Regions from separate parts of the Homo sapiens genome. Here region 2 is linked to region 1. Evidence: fine-mapped expression QTL. Tissue or cell type: whole blood. Region 1 holds a variant in brackets; the other region holds the start of a gene. All regions are shown on one strand. Distances are between the middles of the regions.

Region 1 (2,713 bases):
CCTGGGAAGATCATGTAAGGATCAAGTGATCAAATGCTGTAAGATCCTTGAGAATATGTCAGTAGCTTCATTACATAAATGCAGATTTACTGTTAATTCCCAGCCAGTTGGTAAACTCTTAGAGCTGTCTTTTGCCTCTCCTTTTTTTTTAATAGGGCTGTATCTTCGTATGTTCAGCATGCCTTTGAAAGAGTTGTTCCAACAGTTACCCTAATTTGTAGGCCAACTCCAAAACAAGCCTGTTTATTGGTTCAGGTTGGAGTTGGATTTCACAATCAATTTATCCTTAATGTATTGATAGCATCTGGATGTGTCCATGTGTACTCAACCAATAGTGCTCAGAAATGCTCATGTGATGGAAAGTCTGCTGTAGAGTCAGCTTGGTATAGTTTGAGTCATTATATGACTACATGCCTTTATATTATTTCTAAGTGCTTTTGAAACAATCTCATACTTACAGAAATATTGGAGGTACAGAATAAAGATACTATTCATTCTCCTGATTGATTTGGGATAAGTTGAAGGCCTGATGCCCCGTCACCCCCAAATACATGTTGAATATCCTTTATTCCAATTGCTTGGGACCAGAAGTGTTTTGGATTTCATCTTTTTTCAGCTTTTGGAATACTTGCAGTATACTTATATTATGTTGACACTCAAAAATTTCAGAATTTGGAGTATTTTGAATTTCAGATTTTCTGATTAGGGATGTACCTGTACTTTTTTTTTTTTTTTTTTGAAATGGAGTCTCACTTTGTCACCCAGGCTGGAATGCAGTGGCACAATCTCGGCTAACTGCAACCCCCGCCTCCTGGGTTCCAGCGATTCTCCTGCCTCAGCCTCCTGAGTAGCTGAGACTACAGGCGTGCACCACCATGCCCAGCTGTTTTTTGTATTTTTAGGAGAGATGGGGTTTCACCATGTTGGCCAGGATGGTCCCAATCTCTTGACCTCGTGATCTGCCTGTAAGCAGGCTTTTCTAACGGGAGTGGCTCAGGCCTGCTGTGTTCACCCTTTTCTGTGCGCTTGTGGTGGAACGTAGGCTCCAATTCCAGTCCAGCATGCCAGGGTTCATCCTAGCCTTTTCCTTCCCTATACTTGCAACTCCGGCTGTGACAGTGGAAGCCTGGCCTGTGCTCTCCACCTTTGGAGTATGTATTTATTTCGTCAGGCCCCAGCGTCTCTCCAGTATCCTCACCCTCCCAACAGCTGTCCCCACATGCGACGGCCTCCCCCCTGCGTCCCTCCCGCACTTCCATCCTTTTCCCTGGTGGGTTCCTCCCAGATGGGTTTCATCAAGGAGGGCCCTTGGGACCAATGCCTTTGGAAGGGAGGGGAAGGCAGTGGGATTGAGAAGACAGAGATCATCCCACAGTGAGGCCAGGCAGGCACCCGCAGCAGCTCTGGGGTTAAAGGCTCTTCATGGCTGTCCGGAGTTGGGCCCCAGTGACCTTTTTACCTCCTCCACAGTCAGTCCCTGG[A/G]TGGGGCCCTTCTGGGAAGGGCAGGGCCAAGGCAGCTTTTTGCAAAACCCTAAAGGGGGCTGGGCACAGTGACTCACGCCTGTAATCCCAGCACTTTGGGAGGCCAAGGCGGGCAGATCACTTGAGGTCAGGAGTTCAAGACCAGCCTGGCCAACATAGCAAAACCCCATCTCTACTAAAAATACAAAAAAAAAAAAAAATTACCACTATAGGCGTGGTGGTGGGCACCTGTATTCCCAGTGACTCAGGAGGCTGAGGCATGAGAATCGCTAGAACCCAGGATGCAGAGGTTGCAGTGAGCTGAGCTCTTGCACCATTGCACTCTGGCCTGGATGACTAAGTGAGACCCTGTCTCAAAAAAAGCAAAAAAAAGCAAACCTAAATAAAAGGGCCACAACTGAAGGCTTTCTCCCAGCAGGTGGGGCAACAAGCCCCCCAGTGAAGGGGTCCAGGCAGCACGCCATCCGCCAGCTTCCCCAGCCCGTGCCCTATCCTTACTCAGTCCCCTCTACCCCTCACTGCCATGGCTTCTAAACAGAATTGTTCAGGAAGGGCAGGGAAGAGAAAAGGAGCCCGCTGTTTTTAAATGATGCTATAACTTAAATCTTCATACCTTTAGATGGGCTTTTCCCTATTGTGAAAGTTTTTACTGAAACACTTGTTTCCGTGAAATCATCCCAAACTAGGAAGAGAAAATTAAGCCAGCCTGGTTCTGTTTCCCCCAGATAACCGCTCCCTTCATCCGTCGCTCCGATGTGGCAGCGCGTGTGTGTGCTTCGTCACCTGGAGGTTTGATGAGCAGTCTCATCTTTGAGCCTTGTTCTGCAGTTTGTCCTCTGACCTGGCTTGCACATTTCTCCTGCGTTCTTATGTCTCATTATTTTATTTTTCTAGGGACTCTAAGAATCTCGATAGTGAGCTCTTTCCAACAAAGTTGTGGGGCCACCAAACTCGTAGTGGATAAAACTGCAAGGGAAAATGTAGCCGTGAAGCACTTTTATTCTACATTTCCCATTTTTACTCTCCATTTCCCACAACACGAGGAACATACGGTGTTCCCAGTTGTGCTGTTTCTTTTGTTTTTTTTTTTTTTTTTTTTTTTTTCGAAAATGCAACAAAAGCAATAAGCAAGAACCGCCCCAACGTGGGTCCTGGAGTCCCTCTTCAAAGGCACGGAGAGGGAAGTCTCTACACATAGGGTCAATGGAGGGCCTAGAAAAACCAACAGCCAT
Region 2 (2,500 bases), 230 kb before region 1:
TAGATCAGCTCCGGCCCCACCGTCCAGGAGAGGGCCCGCCTGAGGACCTCTGTCTGTGCCGCGCGTGGTCAGCCCCGGTCCCCTCACTCCATGGCTGGCCCCTAGCCCTTCAGAGCGGACACCTCTCCTTAGGGATGCAGGGCGAGGAAGGGCGGGTGGAGCTGCGAACCCACGGGGACCTGGAGGACCTCTTGGCCCCCTGGAGAGGGGTACTATGAGAGGGATTCATGGGACACAGATTTGGGGGACTGGGTAATTTTACCCCCTTTGGCAACCATAAAAACCCTGAGCAAACGTGTCCATTCGCTATTTCGCAGAAATATACAATGCAGGCCCACACAGGCATCTCTGCGAGGCCCCCTAGTTAAGGGCGCAGCGTTCTTCGGAAGCTCTTGGTCTTGCTACCAGGGCGTCACCGGCTTTTCCGCACTGGGGACATTTCGTTTGGGCTCTGCGCAGCCGTTGCACCTAAGGCCCTGGGAGCTCCGCGTTCCTCCCCAGGCGCCCGGGACAAAGTGCCCGAGGGCTCCGCAGACGTCCAGCCCTGCCCGGGGCTCACGGCCGCCGGGGCTCTCCAACGGACCGTCGAGGGCCACGTTTTGCTGGGGTGTGAGCGACGATTCTTTTCCCGCCCTATGAGGCCCGCCACTAGCTAGGTGCCCCATGAGACGCCGTGGCGAGCACGGCTACCTGGCAGCTCGCCCGGGCAGCCCCAACTTAATTTCCTGCCCCTCGGGGCACCTTTCCCTCGAATAGCTCTCCTCGGCCCCTCCAGCCCTGCCCAAGGGGCCTGGAAATGTTCGCAGCTTCAAGAAAGGCTCTATTTAAGCACAGGATGGGGTGGGGCGGGCGGGGCCAAGATTGCCCTGGGGATTGAATTTATCTCCGCTCCCAGCGATCCCCGGCGGATAAAGCGCAAGTTTGTGCACACGGTCGACTGAGCCATTGGAAACCCAGCTCACGAACCGCAGCCAGGGAAACGGGAGTTTGCCCAGTTGTCCTTGCGGAGGGGTGTGCGGAAACGCCCGCGATGGGAACTTTCTGCAGATCATGTATGGAGGGAGCTCACAAAAAGGAGGAAGGGGAGCGCGGTGGGGAGGAGGCCGCGTGGGCGTGGAAGGTCCCAGGGTCCTGGGGGTGCCCGCCTGCTTAGGCGCAGGGAATGGCGCGGAGCTGGCTGGGGAAGGAGCCGATCACGTCCCGCAGGCTAATTGGCTTAAGAAATTTTGCAAGCGCTGGAAAAGGTCGTTGAAGGAGTTCGCTGCACGCGCACGCACACACATACACACACACACAAAATCTTAAAAAAAAAAAAAAAAAAAAAAAAAAAAGAGCGCCGAGCATGCGCACAGAGAGGATGCCATATTGGAATGAGCTGTAGTGGGAGCCGGAGGACCGGAGCGGGCGCGCGAGGGAGGCGGCGGGCGGGGAGCGAGCGGGCAAGGGCGGGCGAGCGAGCAAGCGAGCGAGGCCGGTGCCCTCCCGGGCGGCGACCGGGGCCTGGGTCCACGCCGAGGGCAGGACGAACTTCACCAGGTAGGACGCCGCGCCGGCTGCTGTCCCCGGCGCCCAGGCTGGCCGGAGAGCAGCCCTTCGGCCCGCAGGTTGAGTGCGCTGGTCAGGGGCTTTTTCCAGCCTAGGAAAAAAAAGGAAAAAAAAAAAAAGGAAGGAAGCCTGAGGGAGCTGGGGTTGGAGGTGGCGGGTGGGGGAAGGCTGGGGAGGGTGCAGGGGAGCGAAAGAGAAGGGCAGGAGAAGAAAGCGACTGCACTTGAGCGAAGCTTCAAACTCCTCTGTGCGCTCCAGGTTGTCATTTTTGCTTCCCGGGTCCCCTTCGCCTGCGTCTCCGGGCTCGGAAAAGCCGAGCCGTGCGGGAGTCCGTCCGGAGTTGCAAAGTGTCCTCCTTCCCCGGGCGCAGCCTGTCCCCTCCCGCCGCCCACCTTCCTCGTTTCTGCACTCATTTTAGCGACGCAGCCGCCGCTGCTACCTACCCCGCGCTCCCGCGTCTCCTCCGCGCTGGGGTCTCCCCTTTCTTTTGGTTTGGGTGGGAGAAAAAGATGGTGAGGACGGGGAATCGGAGACCGGCATGGGGGTAAAAATCGTGCAGACATTCGGAATCGCTCCCTTGGAAACATTTGCCTGAGCAACTGAAATAAAATTGGCAGTAGTAGTTTTGGAGCGTGCTCCAGCGAGGATGGTCTTTTTGTTCATTATTTTCTCTTTAAAGTAATATCCTGTCACTTAGGGGCTTTCCGGTTGTCTCCTCTTATTCGACCCCCTTTCAAAATTGCTGACTTGAGCTGGTTCTGGAGTTTATTTTTTAATATGCGTGCGTGGGTATGTGTATGTGTGTGTATGTTTTGCAGAAATCCGCCAAAATGCAACTGTAGGAACTGCGAGATGTATTTATTGATTTTGACCAGGGGCGGTGGGAAGGGGCTGGAGGGAGCTGGGGGATCCTGGAGGGTGGGAAGTGGCTGATTCTCGGTGGCCGGACACTCAT

Evidence for each region. PIP is the estimated chance that this variant, and not a neighbour inherited with it, causes the effect.
Region 2: it holds the start of SFMBT2, and the variant in region 1 is fine-mapped to the expression of SFMBT2 in whole blood (INTERVAL, PIP above 0.99). The same link has a PIP of 0.9 or more in blood mononuclear cells and monocytes.

What each region holds. Positions count from the first base shown.
Region 1 is chr10:7,179,264-7,181,976 of GRCh38, reverse strand. The region is part of intron 16 of SFMBT2 (Scm like with four mbt domains 2); the gene reads left to right. Among named protein-coding and RNA genes, the nearest start is that of SNORD129, 6.2 kb to the left of the region's middle. The variant A/G (reference allele first, on the strand shown) is at 1,482.
Region 2 is chr10:7,409,897-7,412,396 of GRCh38, reverse strand. SFMBT2 (Scm like with four mbt domains 2) reads left to right here and starts at 1,363. Exons shown (of 21, transcript NM_001387889.1): 1 at 1,363-1,536. RefSeq lists enhancers at 1-193, 194-1,114 and a silencer at 1,350-1,489.